Linked DNA regions of Homo sapiens: all the other regions are linked to region 1. Evidence: fine-mapped expression QTL. A gene starts in region 1. Each other region holds a variant in brackets. All regions are shown on one strand. Distances are between the middles of the regions. Region 1 holds the start of VENTX (VENT homeobox). Region 2 overlaps KNDC1 (kinase non-catalytic C-lobe domain containing 1). Region 3 overlaps KNDC1 (kinase non-catalytic C-lobe domain containing 1). Region 4 overlaps CFAP46 (cilia and flagella associated protein 46).

Region 1 (5,116 bases):
GGAGTCAGAGGTGCCTCCTCAAAATGCATCCCCCGTCTGTGGCATAGCACACAGGCCCCGGGGCCCCGTGGACAGGGCTGGTCCCAGCGAAGGCCGGCCTGGGGTAGGGGGGTGGGACGCCAGAGGCTGCCCGCAGCAGGAAGCTCCCGCAGATGCCAGGGCCTCTTGTGCCACTTGGCAGAGACCCCAGAAGGAGCCAGGGGGCAGCATCAGAGCCTGGGGCCCGGACAGGGGTGCCCAAGGGCACAGCAGCTGCAGGCCATTGGCAAGGCCAGAAGACGTTGAGTAGAAAGCTGGGGGCGCATGGAGAGACCCCGAGAAGGGGCTGTGCAGCTGGGGGTCCTGCATTTGCCGTTTGTGTTTCATGCGGCGATTCTGAAACCAGGTTTTTATCTGTAGGAAAAGCAAGATCAGAACAGGGGTGAGACTAGGCCACCAGCCCACCCTTGCCCACCCCTGCCCACCCCAGCCTGCCCGGCCCACCTCACCTGGACCTCTGAGAGCTGCATCTCCCTGGCCAGCCTCTTCCGCTCCAGAGGGCTCAGGTACTGGTGGTGCTGGAAGACGCCCTCCAAGGTGCGGACCTGCTCCATGGTGAAGGCTGTGCGGACACGGGGGGCCCGCAAGGTATTTGGCTCCTTACTCAACCCTGACATAGAGGGTAAGGGCATTTGGCTCAACATGCCACCCCATGGGGCAAGCTCGTGCCCACGGGTAACAGGTGAAGACAGCCATGCTGGGGGCTGGGCAGGGCAGATCTTCTCACCTGACAGTGACCAGCAGCACCCCCGCCGCCTCCCAGGTCACATGCGGAAAGGGGGCTCAGAGAGGGGGCTCAAGAGGGGAGGGAATGTTAACAGCAGCTTGGGCCTGCCCTCCGCTCAGTCCACTCAGTTCCGCCCCATCCCACACTTCCCTTCCAGAAGCCGGTTCCCAGGATGCCCTTCCCACAGCCTTCCAGGCCGGTAAGGTAAGAATCCATTATATGCAAAGGCCTGGCGACCCACCCAGGGGCACCCATCCCTGTCCCGGGCTCCGTCTCCTCAGCCAGCGGAGGCCAACTCAGTTAATCCCCAGGCCCACTGTGGTCAAGTCTGTTTCCTAATTTCTAAGTTAAGGAATGGGGGCTGGCACCAAACGGCCCCACGAGGTGGTCTGTGGAGCTGGGTCTGGGTCCCAGGAAAGGCCAACGTGGCCAATCGAGCTCGACATTAAATGCAAGTCTGACCAAAATGCTCGCTGGAGTTTCTGCGGAAGGAAGCGTATTTTACAAAATCTGTCTTAACGTTAGCCTGAAAGCACATGGTAGACCCAAAAAGCAAATGCCTTCTGGCAGGGAGGGCTGTAGGACTGGCATCAGAAAGGGGGTTGCGGGACAGGGATGGCTGGCTTTTTTGGGGTGGGGCAGGATAGCTAGCTGGGGAGAATACATTTAAATTTTCATTTCCCTTAAGTACAAAGTCACTCCATAAGGATCAGTCAAATTTTTAAAAATGAAAACTTGTAGATGATGTCAACCCCACTTTTGACCAAGTACTACCTTAAACCTAAAAGTGGTGATGATGTCACAAAGACTAAAACACAAACGCAGAGAACCTTTGTTCTCAGCAGACAACAGAGCATCTGGGCGGCCACAGAGGGAACTTCAGAGTTTCTGCAGGCATCGGGGTCACCGCCACCCCTGCAGCGAACCTGCAGGCTCTTTAAAGACAGCTGTGCTCCAGGTGACCCGGAATGGGCTTGAGCCTAGACGCTGAGCAGGCACCGGCTGTGCTGGGGGGCGGGGGCGGGGGGCTTGGCAAATCATCGAGACTTTCAGTGAGCGCCCGGAATCAGGGCAGGGAGGTGCGGACGGGGACCCCTTGGACGGTCCCTCGGCACCAGGCCGGGGTGGGGGACGAAGACACAGCTGAGGAACGGGGTGACAAAAGGAGGCAGAGGAGCCCACCGGGGGCTCAAGGAGAGGAAATCCCCGTCAAGGCTTTGGTTCCGAGGGAAGCTGCGCTCCAGTGAGGGCGCCGGCAAGGCCTCCGCCGGCCCTCATGGAAACGCCCCCGGCCCTGACCTAGTGGGCAGGGCACCGCGGGGAGTGCAGCCGCCGGGCTCCTGGCCTCTCCCCCACTCCCATCTCCACCTGGGAAGGAAGGGACCCCCCCCACCCGGACCTACCGGCCATGGTCCTCTCCGGCGCAGGCAGATTTGAGGACCCGGCGGCCTCCTTGATGCTGACGGCCTGAGGGGGCTCCCGGGCGCCGGATGTCTGGCCTGGGCCAGGGAGGCTCCCCAGGGAGAAGTCGGCAGGCCTGGGGGTGTGGGTCGGCCCTGAGCAGCTGCTCTGGGAGAGCCAGTCCACGGAGCCAAAGCTGGAGAGCTGCTGCGGGCCACGAGGTGGGGAGGAGGAGAGGCGCATGGCGGCCAGGTGGGCCGGAGGGAAGGCCAGGCGGGGCTGGCCAGGCGCAGGATCCACCTCGGGCCTCGCCAGGCGGCGGCGTTTATAAGCCCAGGAGGAGGGGGCGGGAGCCCGGTTTGCATACACGGCTAATGCCCAGATAAGCAGCGCCTAATTGCCTTCGATTCAGAGGCACAAAGGAGGCCGTTCACACCTCCCCGGCTCCTCGATGTCTGGGGGAGGGGCGGGGCTGCGGGCCCTGGTTAATGGAGAGGCGATGGTTCGGGATCGGTCACCTCCTTTCATCTCTCCCAACCCCCCACCCCGCGGGCCGAGGCTGCAGGAAGGTAGGAGGGTCCCACTCCCACTTGGGCCTGTCCTGGGAGGTGCCGGGCGACCTCTCCTCTCCAGGGGGACGCTGGCGCCTGTGCCCAGCCCGGACACCCGAGGGCGAGCAGGCTTCAGGCTGGGAGAGTCAGGGCGGACTTAGGTTGGGAGCAGGCTTCGGGGTGGGAGAGTCAGGCCGGTGCCCGCGTGCGCTGCGTCCAGGCTGTGCGGCCGCGCAGGAACCGAGGGAGGCTTTCCCGGGAAAGAGACGCGGAGGACCCGGGGAGCGGCGCGCGGGGGCGGGAATGTCGGGAGGGGCCTCTCGGGGGACTCGGCCGCCTCCAGCCCTAATCCGGCTCCTCTGGGGGACTCACTCCGGGGCCATCGCAGGAGCCTCTGCATTCGGGCGCGGGCGGCTCCCTGACTCCATCCCGAGCTGGAAGGGCCGGAGCCACTGCCTCGCACGGCGGGGTAGGAACTCCGCGTCGGCGGCGGGACTGGTGCGTCCCCGCCAAGCCAGGCTGTCCCCACTGTGGCCAGGGCGCGGGCAGAGCCGCCGGTGACTGTGGCGCCCAAACCTCACGGGGACGCCCTGAGCACGGGCCCCCGGGACGGTCATAGCCACGCGCGGCCGCTGCTCCCACGAACCTGAGTCCCGAGCTGTCTGCGTCTCCGCGTCCCCGGGTCGCCTGCGCGTCGGCGTGGGGCGCGGGGACCGACGTGACCGGGTGGGAGGCAGCCATGCCGAGGGTAGGACGGTGTCTTCCGCGCACTGGCTTGGGGTCCGCACGGCGTCTCCGGCGGCCGGAGTTAGGCGGAGGCGCAGGTCCGGCCCCCGAAGCCATGCGGGGTTTCGGCGCAGACGCGGGGTCCACGGAGCAGCCCCGACTCCCGGCCAGGTCCTGACCGCGGCTGCCTCAGCGCCCACGCCGCCCGCGGAAATCAGAAAGACCGGCGGGCCTCGCCCCACGGTTACGCCCGCCCCAGCCAGCCGAGCCTCCCGGGCTGAGCAAAGAGGTTGGAGCCCGGGAGGCGGGCGCTGGGGCGGGACCTCAGCCGGGAACCGATCGGCGGCCTACCTGGGGTCACAGGAGAGGGGTCGCGGAACGGACCGTGCCGCCGCTGACCCTGGTCTTCCTCGGACCCTGCCGGCCCAGTTAGGTCACTGGGCCCTCAAGGGGGAGGCTGGCGGGGGTGGGGCGCTGGGGGCTTTGGACGTGGCCTCGGGGGTAAAGCCAGGAGGGGTGGGGGGCCAGGAAGCCGGCCTAGACCCCCGCTGCACTTCATCTCCGGAGAGACCGGGTCACCCCCGGTAGAGGGGCTTTGAGCCACTGCACAGGACCGGCAGTGTGTCCCGGCCAGGGGCAGCGAGGGCCCAGATGCCTGTGGCCACAGGGCTGGCCCCGAGGATGCCCCATGGGGCAGGTCCCCAGCACTCCCGCAGTGGGGGCGGTGCCTCAAAGTGGAGCAAGACAGCACACCTCACACATCCCGCAAAAACATACAGAACGTTCGACAGGCAGGGAAAAGGCCCAGAAGCTTCCCTTACATAAAGAGGAACACCACGAGCATGCATTTCCGAAACGCCAGCACCCAGCCTTCCATTTCTCCATTTCTAATTTCCGGGGCCCAGGGCCCCGGTGTCTCAGCCCCCTTCTGTACGTGGTTCAGCACCCCCACCCCCAGCTCTACATAGAGCCCCTCCTGCCGGTTTCCCAGCCCCCCGCCACCACCTCCACCTGAACCGCCCCCTCCGATCCCCCCAAGCCCGAAGACAACCTCACCTTCACACGGCAGGGTCAGGCAGCCCCTCTCTCCTGCCCAGCGGCCCCACCACCGTGGCTCAGGCCTCCCCGCCTCCTGCAGCCCGGGCCCCTCCCTCCACCCTCCCTCTAGAGCCCGCCGAGGCTGCTCTAGCCCAGGCTTGGGGGTCCCCAAAGCCTCCGCCTCCAAGCCTCCGTCCACCCCCGGCTCTGGGACGCGCCCTGATGCGCTGCCATGGGTAGGAGACTTGGGCGCCCCCCTGCCTCCTTCCTCCCAGCCCCTGGGGCAGCCCAGCCCCGTGAATTGCGCCCCGCACGCCCCAGAGCGTGGTCCCCGCGGGCGTCGCCCTGTCCCCCACCCTCGGGGGCCAGGCCGGGTTGCGCTGGGCAGGAAGTCCCGCGTCACTCCCAGGCCGACAGCACCGCCCCCACGCACAGCCCGGAGTCCAGCTAGTCCCCGAAACGCGCTCCCCCCGAGTCCAGGGCCTGAGGACAGACACCGGGCCCAGCGCGTGCTGCCGGCCCCGTCGCGACTCGCCCGAGCCTCCTCCGAGCACTCTGGGACCACCTGAGGGGGAGGCCAGCTACTCAGGAGGCTGAGGCAGGAGAATCTCTTGAACCTGGGAGATGGAGGTTG
Region 2 (5,141 bases), 24 kb after region 1:
TCAGTAGAGACGGGGTTTCGATATGTTGTCCAAGCTGATCCCAACTCCTGGTCTCAAGTGATCTGCCCTCCTCGGCCTCCCAAAGGGCTGGGGTTACAGGCATCAGCCACTGCGACCGGCCTGCGTTTTCTTAAGGTGAGAAATTTTACGCTGTTTCTTCCTGCTTCTGTTTCCACCTTGTCTCCCTCCAGACGTCGTCTAAACGGTGCCACCAAGACATTGTCTGAACGGAACCACCGACCCCCCATTTTCTTCAGGTGAGAAATTTTATGCCGTTTCTTCCTGCCCTTGTGTCTCCACCTCGCCTCACTCCAGGCATCGTCAGAACGGAGCCACTGACCCCCGAGCATTTTTATTGATCACTGCTGCCCTCTGTGCTCGAATTTTGTATTTTAATGATTTTCTGGGGTCCTGAATTTACAAATGTGAAACTCAGTGTCCTGGATTGTTCCGACCTCACAGCCATTGAGACACAATACGTCAGGACATCGTGGCTCTAACACTTGTTAGATGGACGAGCGTGGTGCTTTTAGAAGTGGGTCTCCGGCGAGGTCCGTCCGCTCCCGTGAGGAGGTGAGGGGCCTGTTCTGAGCGATCCGCAGCTCCCTTTTGCTAACGGGGATGTGGCAGCAGTGCCGAGCTCTGTCCCGGCCACGCTGGGTGCCAGCAGCCCTGGGTGTGAGCCTGCACGACTCTTGCCCACCCTGCAGACCTGTACACGGGTGCGTGACCAGGACGAGCGGCCATCCCGGAGACCCTCAGGCAGGGCCGCCGCAGGCTCGAGGTGGGTCTCAGGCTGGGAGGGGCAGTCCTCCACCCGCTGGGGCAGCTCGGGGTGAGGGTGCGCCCAGGACGATGTGGGTTGGCCAGGTGACAGCCACCTGTCCTTGTGCTCATCCTCATGAAGCCTGGCCACACGGGCCGTGCGTGAAGGCTCTGGTTTAGGGAAATCGCATTTTCATGTCCCTCACGATATGGTGAAAACCATGGATCTGAGGAAAGAGGCAACCAGGCTCCCTGTTCCCACGCCCCGTGCTGGCGTGCCCTGGCGACAAATCCCCAAAGTTGGAAAGTTCTCCCCAAGGGAGGAGAGAAGGCGGTGCCTCTGCCTTCGTTTACGGCCCGGGGTTGCCTGCGGGCTTGGAGGGGTGTGAAGGAATAATAGGAAGGGAAGCTCTGTCCACCGTGGAGGTGGCTTTGCCGCCTGGCAGGGAGGTACTGCACCTTGGTGGACTGCGAGCAGCTCCTGGTTCCCCCAGAGCCTTCAGCCCACTCTGGGACAGCAGCAGGGACGGCAGTGATGGGGTTCGTGGCCGGGAGTCCTGTTCCTTGGGCTCAAGTTTGCTTTCAGAGAGCTCCGGCCCAGGAGGGGGTGGGCGTCTACCTGCCTGCTGTGGGGGAAGGGGCCCTGTAATCCTGAGTCTTACTTGGAGCGGGACCTGGTGACCCCAGCCCACGACAGCCAAGCGCCAGCTGAGCTCAGGTGTGAGGAGATCACAGTCCTCTGTAATAGGCTGTCCGTCTGCTGGGTGAAGGCATCCGCTGGGTGAAGGTGCAGACCCCTGGGGCTGGGGGACTCTGGCCTCCTGAGAAGCTGTGGACCCTGATGCCTCCTGGGCAGGTAAGCCCCGTGAAGGATGAGCTGGTCGAGGCAGTGACTCTCTAGGGGCTGCACAGTGCCCTGCCTGACAGCAGGTGGGGCAGGTCAGGGGAGGAGCCCCCAGTCCAGCCCAAGCCCCACAGGACCTAGAAGAGGCTGAGACTGGGCCCCGGCGCTGGAGCTTGACCTTGACCTTGGTCAGACCACGGAGCCGATCCGTTCCACAGACTAAGAACCCACAATGAGCATTCGGCCAGGAGGAGCCCAGGGTGGGACGCTGGGCATCACAAGCCCCAGCCCAGGGGCCAGGCTCAGGCACAGAGGGGATGGGGCCTGGGGTGGAGTGGGGTGTGTGGCGGAGCCCAGTGCTGGGGGTGGTGCGTGAGGGACTCTGTGTGTGGTGAGCACAGGTGGGGGTGGTAGCAGTGGTGGGTGCAGCTTGTCCTGGGTCTCCAGGCGGCCCACAGCCAAGGATCACCCACCACTGAGGGGAGCCATCTCTGGCTGCAGATGTGGACGTGGCTGTGGAAGTGGCCGTGGATGTGGATGTGGCCGTGGATGTGGCAGGCAGTGCTGGGGGAGAGCTGGGAGGGC[G/A]GCTGACCCCCCTCCTCCTGATGTAGTGAAGCCTGTGCCCTGCTCCCCTCAGCCTTGGGTCGGGTGTGGTTCCAAGGGACACAGAGTTGGGTTCACTGCATTGGGAGAGGGTTCAGGCCACGGCCTTATAGGAGGCGCTGCCACCCCCGCGTAGGTGGGCCCCACGCCCCGTGTTGGCCTCGGAACTGTAGGGTGCCCACCTTGGAGGTGTGGCTGGTCACAATCTCTGCAGCCACCCAGGTGCTGACGTCATCTGCGTTTCTTAGAAGCTGTAACAGATACTTGTCCTGAACGTAATTGGGCAGAAATAAGCTGCAGGTTTTGGCCGAAAGAGACTCAGAAGAGCTGGCTCTGGAAGAGAAATATGGTCCCTGTCACCCCCAGGACTTGTGCAGTGGCCCTGCCCGGCCCTGGGGCTGCTGGTGCAGGGTGGGCTGGGGTCGGGCCACGAGGCCGCTCCAACTGGCAGACACCACTCTCTCGCGTCTCTGGAGACACAGGCATCTCCTGCTGGTCAGGAGCGTCCACAAGACTCTTACGGGAAGCCCCCGAGACCCTCCACCACCGCTCCCAGCTGAGGGTCCCGGACGCTCACTTGGGGATGGCAGTGCTCTTGTCCATGACGCCCAGGGCCCGTGAGTTCAGGAAGTGGACCGGGTGGCACTTTTGAAACAACTCCTGCCCAGAACATGGAAACAAGAGGTTCAGGCTTCCATCCCTTAGGGCCTTGTGTCCAAGGCAGGGTCCCAGGGAGGGTGGGTGTTTTCTGGGGGGCCAGCTCTGCAATCCCAGGTTCAATACCCATCTAACAGTCCACAGGGGTCGGCTGCAGGGCTCCCCATGTGCTTGGCCCCCAGGGGCTCATGGTGTCCGGGGCAGCCCTCGTGACAGCAGGTGGATCACTAGATTGGCATCACTGCTGTCACCTGCTACATGATGTGGGCTCCCGGGATGGCAGGGACCTGGGAAGAGGCCACCTGAGGGCTGGCTGTGGTGGCGGCAGAGGAAGTTGGGCAGGGCCCTGGCAGCTGGGTGGGGGCACAAGGAACCGGGTTGGCCCAGCTCCGGTGGAGGGGCTGGGGGGAGAGACTCAGCGCCCCATGCGGCCCTCAGGGCATCCTCTAGTGCCTGTGAGGCCAGAGTGCTGGGCAGAGGCAGGGCCAGGCCCAGCGGGCAGTGGTCTGGAGAGGAGGACTCAGCTTTGCTGGGGCCTCCCATTGAGGCAGCAGCCGCCTGGACCTGTGCACCTGGCAGCCACCCCCAACCTGTGCACCTGGCAGCTGGCCCCTTCTCTGCCCGTCTGTTCCTCTGGAAGCAGCCGCTGAGGGCCCTATGGGCGCGGAGTGTTTCTGGGGCCCCGACTCGCAGGTGACCTGGGCGCAGATCCTCGCCCTCCTCACCTGCTGTAGCAGCGTGAGCTGGCTGAAGAGCTGGTGAGTGCTGTACTCCGTCAGGAAGTAGGGCCCCTTCTCACTGGTCTTGGCGCAGGGGCCGTAGAAGTCCTCGAGGAAGCAGGGCTTGGGCAGGGCGGCAGCAATGGTGTAGGGGCGCTCCTTGTGTGGCGGCAGCACCAGCCCGTTGCCTCGGGGCAGCCTCCAGGGGAAGCTCTGCAGGGCAGGCCGGGCACTGAGGGGCCTAAGCTCCGTGTCCCCTCTGGGTCAGGGGTCCAGGGAGGCAGGGTTGGGGGGTGAGGACCAGGCCAGGTGCAAGCCCAGTACTCCTCAGACTGGCCCAGCCAGAGCCAGAGAGCAGCCTGCCCACCCGCAGCTGTGCTGGCACAAGGATGCCTGTCCTGGTCGTTTCAGCAGGTGCCCCACGGGCAGGACGCTGAGGTTTAATGGAGAGGGCATTTCTCTCCCCACACTGGCTTCTGCCTTAGTCTCTGGCCCGTGGGTCAATGAGTCACAGCAGGACCCTCCTCCCCTGAGCACCCGGGATGGTGCAGGAGGTGCCAGCGCAGCAGGGCTGCCTGGGACCGGGAACATGGAGGGGGTATGTGAGTGTGCACGTGTGGATGTGAGGGTGCATGCGTGTGTGTGTGGATGCGTGTGCGGGTGCACGTGTGTGCATGTGTGGATTGCGTGAGGGTGCACACGTGTAGGTGTGGATATGTGTGAGGGTGCACACGTGTAGGTGTGGATATGTGTGAGGGTGCACACGAGTGCATGTATGGCTGTGTGAAGGTGCACGTGCGTGTGCACGTGTGGATTGAGTGTGCACGCATGTGCACGTGTGGATTGTGTGAAGGTGCATGCATATGTGCACGTGTGGATGTGTGTGATGTGCACAGGTATGTATGTGCACACAAGTGTATGTGCACACGTCTATGTGTATGCATGTATACAGCTGTGCCCATTTGCACTTGTGTGTATGTGTGTGCATGCACCAGTTGTGTCTTTGAGGCTGGGCTCAGGGACCCACATCCGCCTGTCCAGGGAGGACCTCCCCTGAGAAAGGACCCCACCTTCCTGGAGATGCCGTCCTCTGAGAGCCTCTTACAGAGGGCGTTGAAGGGTCTGGCATCCTCCTCGGCCTCCCTGGGGTTCTCCAGGTCTGTGCCGCGAGGGTTGCCCTCGGCCCGCCGGTCCATGCCCACCTCCAGGAGGCCCAGCAGGTGCTTGGCAGAGCCGTCCAGGGGTAGGATCTAGGCAGAAGCACAGTGGTGGGGGGGTCACTGCCACCTTCTGGAGGAGGGCGGCACCTCCCACTGTGGGAGCCCCGGGTGCGGCCGCCCAGCTCAGCGCCACTGTCACCTTGGAGGAGATGAAGTCCTCTAGCTTCCCCAGCAGCCCGCTGTTCCGAGGGAAGTCCACAGCGTAGCAGTCCTCCACCCAGGCCTGCAGGACGCAGAGGCTCCGCCTGTAGATCTTGGTGAAGGTCGAGGTGGGGTCCTGGTGGGCCCTGGAGACGCAGGGGAGCTGCTGAGCTGCCAGGATGTGGGAGTCGG
Region 3 (5,141 bases), 35 kb after region 1:
GAGCCACTGCACCAGCCTTGCCTTTCTTTTAAACTTAAAGAAGCCCAATGATGCGGATTCCAGCTGGCCTGTGCAGACGAGGCCCCCAAAAACCCTCCTCCCGGGAACCCACTGGCTGGACCATCGTGGTTTGCTGGGCGGCGGCCGCAGCGTTTGCCCCAGCCCTTGGGTGCTCCATAGAGCATGAGCGTTGAGTGTAAATGTGAGTGCACGCCCGGGTGTGATTCTCCGGAACCTGCCCAGAGTCTGAGTTCCTGCCTGCGAGATGGAGCCGGGGACCTCATCCCCAGGGCTGTCGCCATGAGGGAAGCAGGACTGAGGCCAGACGGGCAGGTCCTGATCACAGGAGCTGGGGGCGAGGGCCGCCGGGCACTGCTTCATGCACAGACAGCAGCTGGGGCTGAGCGCCTCCCTGGACGGGACTCTACATTCAGGGAGAGGGCGCCGCGTTGTCCCAGGATGCCTCCCACGCCTGGCCGGGCAGCCCTCGTCTGAGCACTCCTTCTGTCCTACGGGACAGGCACACGGGCGTAGAGGCTGGAGGAGGGGCGCCCTGAGGATGGGCTGCCAGGGCAGTGACCCCAGAGACGGCCCTTCCCTCTAGGGGTACAGGGGCAGATACAGCCTCCTCCTGCACCCGTGGGGCTTGGCCCAGTACTGAGGAGGGTGGTGATTCTGGGGGTGAGGAGGGTGGTGGTTCTGGGGTGAGGGGTCTGGGAAGTCTTGGGGGTCCATGGGAGCTGGGCCTTGAGCAGCAGGTCTTCAGGGGGACTGTGAGGTGCCACGGGGCAGGGGCACCTGGCTGGGGGCAGAGGTGAGAGGCGCGGCAGCCCTCGGCCCGCAGCCTCCTGTGAGGGGTTCACGTGCCCAGGGCCCGAAGCGACCGCCCCGAGGGGCTCATCCGCGAGCCGGTCCACCAGGCTTCCTTTTGTGAAGTGCGGTTGGCTCAGATCCACACAGCCACCCCCTCGCCTTGTCAGCCGCCAGTGACTCTGCTATTGACAGGGTTTATTTTTGAATGTTTTTTGCAAAATAAAAAAATGCAGGCGACATTTCTATTTAACTACTTGAATCCGCTCTATCTGGTGGTTCCATGGAGACGGGGTCCCTGTGCTGTCTTCTCCCACGCACGGGTTCAGCAGCGGCCGTGGCGGTGCCACGGAGGGCCAGGCTCCCCGCTACGGCAGTGTGGGCAGTGTCCCAGCTGCGTAAAGACCAGGCCTCTGCAGAACCTCGGCCACTAAGCCAGGTTCCCCAAGCCCTCCGGACCCCGCTGCCACCCAGCCAAGTGCGACCCTGCCTCCCACACTGAGCTGCAGGCTGCCGTGGCTGCCTAAAGTGCAGTGAAATTAAAACATCAGGTCCTCAGTCACGTGGGCCATGTTTCCAGAGCTCAGTAGCCACACGTGGCTGTTGGCTACCCGGTGGACAGCGTCTAGAACATTCCATCATCAAGGAAGGACCTACCGGGCTGGGCAGGTTGAGGTTGGTAAACGCAGGTGTCCCCATGGAGCTGTGTTCTGCTGCCGGGGCACCTGGTCCTGGCTTCTGAGGATGGTGGTGGCCACGTTCCCCCATGGCCTGCACCATGGGGCCCTCGTCCGGCCCCCGGAGGTCACCGGCGCCAGGCTCCATCCAGCCCTCTCACCCCCATCCATTTGCAGAGGTGCTGATGTCGAGAAAATCTCCTGGGAAAGGTCTGTGTACCCTGACGCATCCAGGAACCTGGAGGCGGGTGCCTGCGAGCCCGATGCCCGCCTGGCTGGAGTGCAGCTCACGCAGACTCCTCTCTGGCCGGCACCTCCACGGCCTCCGTTCACAGTCAGACTCGATGTCCGTCGGGGGCGCTCCTCACGCGGGAACCACAGGCGGACTCCATGAGGAGGACGGTCTTGACTGATTTTAATAAATCCACGGTAACTAAAATCCACACCACATGTGGGGCAGTGAGGAGGGAAACACGAGGCCAGGCTTCACCGGTGCAGACAGACGGGGGAGGAACCCACACCAGTGCTGTCCACGCTGACTCTGGGAGCCACGCTTGTTTTAACAGCAGGAGACGCGGATGCCAGCTCCACAGCCCCAGGGCACCCGCAGTGCTGAGCCCAGCACACACGGCCGGCACCAGTAGGTGGGGGTCAGCGCTGAAGGGAGGAAATGCCCACCGGCTGCTCCAGCCGCCCCAGAGAACGGCCCTCGCTGCACCGTGTGCGTTTTGGGCTGCGGATGTGAAAGTCTGTCTCCAGGTGGTTTTTGCCCTTGCTGTGTTTCTGAGCCTCCTGTTTTGAAAGAGACACAGTAGCTCCTCCAAGAGAAACGTGAGGCTGTGGCCATGGGCCGGACGCTGTGTGTTTGGGGGCCGAGTGCTCCCTGCTGGACACCATGAGTTTGGGGGCCGAGTGCTCCCCGCTGGACGCCGTGAGTTTGGGGGCCGAGTGCTCCCCGCTGGACTCTGTGCGTTTGGGGGCCGAGTGCTCCCCACTGGACGCCGTGCGTTTGGGGGCCGAGTGCTCCCCGCTGGACTCTGTGCGTTTGGGGGCCGAGTGCTCCCCGCTGGACGCCGTGCGTTTGGGGGCCGAGTGCTCCCCGCTGGACGCCGTGCGTTTGGGGGTGGAGTGCTCCCCGCTGGACTCTGCCAGTTTGGGGGCCGAGTGCTCCCCGCTGGACGCCATGCGTTTGGGGGCGGAGTGCTCCCGGCTGGACGCCGTGAGTTTGGGGGCTGAGTGCTCCCTGCTGGACTCCCTGCGTTTGGGGGCCGGGTCGTTTGGTGTTTGCTGTGCCGGCCGCCCTTTTCTCTCCCCAGCCCC[G/A]GGGGCGGCCTTTGCGTCCTCGAAGCCCCCTCAGGCCCTGTGTGGGGTGTCCGAGATGCAGGTGCAGAGGCTGTAGCACCATGCGGGTCTTTCACGTGGCCCAGAAGCTGAAATGAAGTGAAGGCTTCACAGAGCTTAACCCCTGTCCCCTCACCTGCCCTGAAGGGACACCGGGTCATGTTCTGGACTGAGTCATAAAGTGCAGGCCAGGAGGCGGCAGGAGAGGAGCAAGGAGGAGCCCCAGGAAGGGCTCCGATGCCCAGAGGCTGGGGGAGGCTTCCCACGGTGGCTCAGCTCGAGGCAGACGGTGGTAGGAGAGGTTCCCGGAGCTGATGGCCACTGGGCCCCTCCTGTCATCCACCCTGGAGTCCCGGGGCTCTCGAGAATGCAGCCCAGGTCGGGGCTGTGGGTCACTGGTCCCACCTTGCGTCCAGAGCTCTGCAGGCCTCTCCTGCACCCAGGACTCCCCGGTCTAAGACCTCCTCTCCCTGCTGGCCAGGGAGGAGTTGCAGCTGCTCCTGACCCAGGATGGCACTGCTGGCCAGAAAGCCCGGACCAGGCTGCAGCGACCAGGCCCAGTCTAGACTTGCTGGGCAGGCGTTTTTGGTGTTTTCTTTCACTGCAGAGCGAGGCTGCCCAAGGGCCCGGAGGCTGTGCCTGCCCCACGGAAAACACGACCGAACGCAACCTGGTCACGAGCATGGAGGGGCCTCCTGTGAACCCATCGCCCGGGCGACCATGAGAGAAAAGCCCTTCCCTGTCCTCAGACGTGGAGCCACCAGGAGCACCAGTGCAGACGAGCCTGTCCCTAGACGTGGAGCTCAGCCCAGGGAGGGGGCCCTGACCATCTTGACAGCCACGGGGTGGGGGCACCAGGACCAGTGTCACCCTGTTGGGGGCTCTGGGCACACGGTGCCATCTGTCACCTGCAGTGACCAGGAAGCTCTGCTGGAAGGAGACGCCCTGCCCCACCCGGCAGTGCCAAGGCCTGGGACTCACCGGGCTCTGGGCGTCGGGCAGGGCCCCGTCCGCCTGCTGCCGCCCCAGGTCCTTCACGTAGTTGTGGACGTCGGCCCCGAAGCAGTCGGCCTCGTAGAAGGCGCTGCACCAGCCGGGGCTGCAGCTCTGGAATCCGGCTGGGCCGGGGGACAAGGCTGGGCCGACCCCTTTGGACCTGGCCAGTCGGGTCACTGCCTCCACGTCTGAGGCCCCGCCAGCTGGCCGTCTGTCCTCGCCAGCCTCAGGCTGCTGCGCTCTCTCGGCTTTTACGGACCTCTGAGGCCGAAACCCCACCTCGAAGTTTCCCCGTGACAGTGCGTCCGAGTCCACATCCGACACCGAGGTGGGTGAGCAGGGGGCCCTGCTGCTGGTCCTGGCCATGGCTGGCTTCTCTTTTCCTTGAAAGAAAGAGACGCAGGTTACGTGGACAGTGGCTCCTGTGGGCGGAGCCCGGGCAGGCTGTTAATGGGAGGCCGGTGGTGCTTGCACACCCGACGCCCTTCTCTCTTGCACCCGCCCACCACGGGCGCCCCCCGGGCACGGCTGCCGCCTCCCAGTGCAGGGGAGATGCTGGGACCCTGAACTGCCGCACGGGGCCGGGTGACAGAGAGAGGCCTCTCCCCAGATGGAGCCCCACTCTGCGCCCTCACTGCTTCCAAACTCGTACTCGCCCCGGGGTGGGGCCGGGCCCTGTCCTCGCTGGCTCTGCTATCAGGACTGTGTCCCTCTGCCCCCTCACGCTCTCCTCTTTTCTTCTGGAATTTAAAAAGTGGTCCCCAGCTCTGTCCCTGCGGGAGCTTCCCCTGTGCAGGGCTTTCCTGCCATCCAGGAGTGCACGGGCCTCATGCCCCAGCCTGCCCGCCTGGTCTCCGACTTGATAGGAACTGGGCCCGTCACCAAGCCTGGCCACGACTACGGACAGCCTGAGGGTGACCACCACCCCCACCTTGTCCCTAACACCAAGCCTGCTGGCTGGACGCTGGGACGTCCCCAGCCTGGCACTCATGTGCCCTGGGATCCTGGGGCTAACAAGCCCACTTCTGCCTTGTCACCAAAGCCCCGGCTCACAGGCCCCCCTCTGCTTGGAGAGCGGATCCCACCTGGCTCCCGGCGGCTCCCACTGTCCCAGTGGCCGGTGACAGAGGACCCCCCACCTCCAAGGTCCTGGGCTCCTGCTCGCCCCCAGAAGAGGACGGCCTTTGGCTGGGCACCCCCAGGAGAGGACGGCCTTTGGCTGGGCACCCCCAGGAGAGGGCGGCCTTTGGCTGGGCACCCCCAGGAGAGGGCGGCCTTTGGCTGGGCACCCCCGGGGCAAAGGCAGCCCCGCTGGAGCAG
Region 4 (5,141 bases), 320 kb after region 1:
GCTGCAACACCTGCCTTTGCATTTCCGCCCTCAGTCTCCACCGGGAAGAACAGGGGCCGGTTCACCTACCTCTGTGCGAAGGCGTGGCACCACACCGTCAGCGTGGACAAAGCTGCCGGGCACCTGCGGCGCCTGGGCAACGAAAACGACAAGGAGAGGTGAGTGAGGAAAAGGCCAGAGCGCCACGCACAGCTCAGCCCGGGGGTCGCTCAGCCCGAGGGCCAGTGTCTGTGGCGGCTGAGCTGACCCTGCATGTGGCCGTCTGGGGACTCGCCAGGCCACCTGCTCCAGGATGGTGGGACGAGGTCCCTGCCTGGGAGTCCCGCCACAGACGGGACCCCCCAGCCTGTGATGACAGCCACGGCCTATGAGGTGTGCGGCTGCCCTGTCCCGCCTGTCACTGCTGTCACTCGGAGGACACGCAGCGCCTGTGACCAGAGCAGGCTGATTTTTGGTACCGACCCTGCGGTCGGTACCATCCCCGGGAGGCCTGTCCCGTGCACTCCCCCGGGGAGTGGATTGTGTGGCCTTTCTTCTCACCACAGGGAAGGGAGGTGCCGCGCACAGCTGGCTGGCAGGGAGAGCGGAGAGCTGCGCCCGACCCTGGGACATGCACCCGCCAGGCCGTACCCAGCGCGAGTGCCGGGCTCCTTGCCACCTTGAAACTGCAGAGCCACAGTGGCCTTTTCTCAGGCAGCCAGCCCAGGTGTTTTCTAACTTCAGCAACCACACTTGTCTACTCACCTTTCACTCGTTTGGGTTCTCGGTGAGCAGGATACAGATTTGGGCAGAGCTGGCCAAAGTGGCCCGGAAACAAGGCGTGTGGGACGTCTGTCGGACGGCGAGCCGCTTCTGCCTCCTGTATGACAACGTCAAGGTGAAGAAGTTGAGGCTGCGGCGAGGTTCGTACCCGCCCTCACGAGTGTGTCCCAGCCTGGCCACGGCCGCCCTCTGGGTGTGGGAAGGGTTGTGGTTCGTGCAATGACAACCCATGGGGCCTTCGCATGAGAAAGCGTATTGCTAAGTCACAATGGTAGCAGTTCCCACTAATTATCAGGACCGCCAATCATGGGGCGGCGGCCACATCTGGCTGTGTCGGCCGAGCCACGAGCACCGTCGTCACACTCCATCTTCAGTCACTGGGGGCCTCGGAGGCTCAGGCAGGGGCCACCACAGCCAGTGAGCAGATGCCCATGCGGGGCACCTGCAGGCAGAGGGCAGTGGCCACAGGCCCAGCGTGGAGCGGGACATGGGTGGGGCAGGCTCATCAATCAGCACCCGGCCCTGGAGAGGCTCCTGTCTCAGGGACAATCAGGACCCGGAGGGACGAGGGAGGTGACAGAACGGGCACAGGGGGTCTGGGAGTCCTGCAGGAGTCAGGGAGGGCACCCCCCAAGAAGGCAGGGGATGCAGGAGGAGTTGGGAGAGCCACAGGTGCCAAGAGCATCTGCAGGGATGTGGCCAAGAGCAAGCCCTGGCTGGGAGCCAGCACTCCACCCACCTCCGCCATCCCACGGAGAGCTCCTCCAGCCTCTTCCTGGGCAAGCTGCCCACCTCCCGCCTACCCGCCCACCTTGGCGGACCCTACACGGAGCTGGGGAGAGGCTCAGGCACTCCAAGATGGTTCAGGAATTCTTGTGTTTTTATTTATTTGCTAGAAAAAAACATGATCCTTACCTGCTGCCATTTCTCTCAGGGAAGAAGAAGCGAGGTAGGGACGGCTCGGTGCAGGACACCTGGAGCCAGCCTGAGGTCGTCCTGCAGAGGCAGGTGTGCCCCGACCTGCTGCGGAAGTTCGCGGAGGTGGGGTTCATCCATGCTGAGGTGCGTCATGGAGAGGGGGGTTCATCGGTGCTGAGGTGCGTCGTGGAGAGGGGGGTTCATCGGTGCTGAGGTGCGTCGTGGAGAGGGGCGTTCATCGGTGCTGAGGTGCGTCGTGGAGAGGGGGGTTCATCGGTGCTGAGGTGCGTCGTGGAGAGGGGGGTTCATCGGTGCTGAGGTGCGTCGTGGAGAGGGGGGTTCATCGGTGCTGAGGTGCGTCGTGGAGAGGGGGGTTCATCGGTGCTGAGGTGCGTCGTGGAGAGGGGGGTTCATCGGTGCTGAGGTGCGTCGTGGAGAGGGGGGTTCATCGGTGCTGAGGTGCGTCGTGGAGAGGGGGGTTCATCGGTGCTGAGGTGCGTCGTGGAGAGGGGGGTTCATCGGTGCTGAGGTGCGTCGTGGAGAGGGGGGTTCATCGGTGCTGAGGTGCGTCGTGGAGAGGGGGGTTCATCGGTGCTGAGGTGCGTCGTGGAGAGGGGGGTTCATCGGTGCTGAGGTGCATCCTGGAACTGGGGCTTATCAATGCTGAGGTGTGTCCCTGCACCACAGCGTCAGAGGGTTGCTTTCCTGCATCCACACAACCTGCTGTGGGGCAGGTGTTGGTGTCCACGTGGCCTGTTAACCCACTGCAGATATTTATTGTCATAGAACCTTCTGTGCTTCAAACAAAATGAATATGAGGGAGGGAAAACTTCCTGGATTCTTGGGAGATTTTCTAGGAGAAAAATATAAACCAAAGTGTGCATGGGTGTAAATTTCTCTTGGGAATCATTTCTGAGTGGTGAATCTGCAGTTGTGTGGATGACACACGGCAACCGCCACTCGGTGGGGAGATGGTACCTCGGCATTTGCTGCAGAAGCGCATTGAATGTGGCGTGATGTCCAGGGTCCCTGTGATGGGGCCGCCAGGCCTGTTCCTCCCACGCAGGCTCAGAGACTCCCGGGCTCGCCCTGCCCAAAGTCAGCAGGTAGAAATGGCGGAGTGGGATCCAAACCCAGCCCTGGGACCTCGGGTCCGAGCTCGCAGCCACCGCGCTGCACCAACACAAGTGTGGCCCTTGTGACATTGTGTGACTTCAGAGTTCCCAGAGCCACTCTCGGTTAGGTTTCTGTGGACTTTCTCAGTGGGTGCGTGGCCATCAGCCCTGGAGGACAGGGCACCTGCCGATTTAGGCAGTATGTCTGCTGAGTGGCTCCCAGGTGCCAGGCCCATGCCCTCAGCTGGGGTCAGGGTGAGAAGCGGCACAGAACTCTCTGCTCAGGGAGCCGGAGGCCACATGGCAGAACCAGAGCCAGCGGCGGCCACGGGGCTGTGCCACATGGTCATCCACGCCCCG[G/C]AGGCCAGCGCAGACCTTTCCCCTCAAACATTTAAAACGTAATGATTACGTAGGGGAGGTGCAAATGCTGGCCGGTGTCTGCTGATACCGGGAAGCCACTGTTGGTCCTTCGGGGCTGCTGGGGTGTGCGGTGCTCTGGAAGGACCTTCTCTTCCCTGACCCTTGTGCTAATGGGTGGAGAGAGTCTGTGAGGAGCTGGCTTTAGTCCCTGGAGTGGCTATTGGGGCAGGCCCAGCTTGCAAAGGGCACAGCAAACGGGTCTCACAGCCTGTGCTTGGCATTTTCAAATCAGAGCTGAGGGAAGGGCGTGTGTGTTTCCTATCTGGTGCTGGGCCCGTGCTCCGCCCATGACCCCTCCCACCGCATGTGTGTTTTGCAGGCCACGGTTCATTTGCTGCGGTCAGAAGGTGTAGAGCTGAATGACCGGGCCATCCCCCCCGAAGACCTGAGCCAGCACCCAGCTGGCTACGTGCCTGAGCCCCCGGAGGTGAATGCTGAGTGGATCACATACAGGTGGGCAGAGGCGACAGTGGCCTTGAGCACCGCCCGGGGCCGTGGGTCAGAGTGTCCCCTGCACTCAGGCTGGCGTGGGGAGGGACACCCTTTGCATTCGTAAGGACACCGGCTTCTTGCGTGGGGGACGTGTCCATCGTCACGTAAATGACTGAGACCATGAAAGAGAAAATGGGGTGACGTGGCCTCTCCTGTTTTTAGCCGTCGTTCCTCGCAAGACCCCAGGCGTAGTTTGCTGTTACTACGAGGAAACGTTCAGGAGTGTCTTTTCCAGCGTCCTGTAGTGTCCCTCTTGCTCACCCTCGTCAGGCCCTCTGATGATGCGTGAAAGGCAGCTGCTAGGGAGGTGGTCTTCGTGGCAGAAAATAGAAGGAGCAGCTTCTGTATTTGCTCAGAGGAAAAGCTGTGCTCTCCCTCCTATTGTGGGAAAAGCTATCGAGGACTGCCTTGGCCTCGAAAACGCCTTGTGTGTCAATAAGAAAATTTAGTTTGTACAGAACATCTCACAGGATTTGCTGACGTGAGGTTCCAAGTTCAGAAAGAATTGAAATTGGAGTGCTTGTACCAGCAATGATGGTTTTTACCTATTTTTAATATAAAATTAAATATTTTTAACTTATTTTTTTAATTGACAAGAATTTTACCGTTTTTGGGGTGCATAGTGACGTTTTGATCTGTGTAACGTGGTGATCAGATCTGGGTAATCAGCGAATCCGTCACGCTGGACGTGCGTTGTTTCTCCATGTTGGGAATGTTCGATGTCCCCCTTCCAGCATCCCTGTAAACTATAGTCGCTCGCCGTGCATAGGACACGGGAACTTATCCCTGCAATGCAGCTGCGTCAAGCACACGAACGTGGTAAGCTCGGGTGTCCCCGACTATCCATGCATCAGAAGCTGGGCACGGCACCCCGCCCTCGCCGGTCCCTCGGGGCAGAAGCTGGGCACGGCGCCCCGCCCTCACCGGTCCCTCGGGGCAGAAGCTGGGCACGGCGCCCCGCCCTCGCCGGTCCCTTGGGGCAGAAGGAAAGCCAGCTGTCCCTGCTTGCCATGCACGCCTGGAGCCACCCGGCCGAGCTCTTTGGAGGGAAGAGGTGGTCAGGCAGCAGCAATGACGATGACGGCTGCAGGTGGCCTTTGTCTTGGCCTCTTGGGATCCCTCTCCTGCAGCAGCTCCGGGCTCTGTGAGGAGCCACCGGGCCCAGGCCCACCCCGGGCCTCCAGCCCTCACAGCCCCGTCATTTCAGGCAGGGGCTCCAGATGCCTTTCCAGGACCCAGGCCCAAGGCTGGGCAGAGCTCTGCACTCCTGGTGGGCCTGCTCACAGACAGAGGAGGGTCTGAAAATTAGGGCTCAAGCCGTTTGCAGCCTGTGAGCTGAGAGTGGCTTTGACACTTTTAAATTTGTAAAACAAAATAGAAAAAATATACAGTGAAGACTATATGGAGCTTGCAAAGCTCAAAATGCTATTTGGC

The links. PIP is the estimated chance that this variant, and not a neighbour inherited with it, causes the effect. A credible set is the group of variants that fine-mapping cannot tell apart.
Region 2: its variant is the best candidate, but not a certain one, in a credible set for the expression of VENTX in whole blood (TOPMed, PIP 0.69).
Region 3: its variant is the best candidate, but not a certain one, in a credible set for the expression of VENTX in blood mononuclear cells (TOPMed, PIP 0.55).
Region 4: its variant is the best candidate, but not a certain one, in a credible set for the expression of VENTX in whole blood (TOPMed, PIP 0.90).

What each region holds. Positions count from the first base shown.
Region 1 is chr10:133,235,209-133,240,324 of GRCh38, reverse strand. VENTX (VENT homeobox) reads right to left here and starts at 2,470. Exons shown (of 3, transcript NM_014468.4): 1 at 2,170-2,470; 2 at 489-649; 3 at 1-393. The coding sequence starts at 2,410. The coding sequence ends at 19. RefSeq lists enhancers at 1,683-2,286, 2,287-2,891, 2,892-3,495, 4,705-5,116.
Region 2 is chr10:133,211,376-133,216,516 of GRCh38, reverse strand. KNDC1 (kinase non-catalytic C-lobe domain containing 1) reads right to left here. Exons shown (of 30, transcript NM_152643.8): 22 at 4,948-5,095; 23 at 4,659-4,838; 24 at 3,595-3,801; 25 at 2,790-2,872; 26 at 2,395-2,545. LOC105378573 (a long non-coding RNA gene) reads left to right here. Exons shown (of 5, transcript XR_007062351.1): 3 at 192-257. Among named protein-coding and RNA genes, the nearest start is that of UTF1, 16 kb to the left of the region's middle. The variant G/A (reference allele first, on the strand shown) is at 2,195.
Region 3 is chr10:133,200,564-133,205,704 of GRCh38, reverse strand. KNDC1 (kinase non-catalytic C-lobe domain containing 1) reads right to left here. Exons shown (of 30, transcript NM_152643.8): 17 at 3,807-4,204. LOC105378573 (a long non-coding RNA gene) reads left to right here. Exons shown (of 5, transcript XR_007062351.1): 4 at 3,433-5,141. Among named protein-coding and RNA genes, the nearest start is that of UTF1, 27 kb to the left of the region's middle. RefSeq lists an enhancer at 4,610-5,141. The variant G/A (reference allele first, on the strand shown) is at 2,808.
Region 4 is chr10:132,915,076-132,920,216 of GRCh38, reverse strand. CFAP46 (cilia and flagella associated protein 46) reads left to right here. Exons shown (of 58, transcript NM_001200049.3): 14 at 35-158; 15 at 775-902; 16 at 1,697-1,824; 17 at 3,535-3,668. Among named protein-coding and RNA genes, the nearest start is that of CFAP46, 25 kb to the left of the region's middle. The variant G/C (reference allele first, on the strand shown) is at 3,156.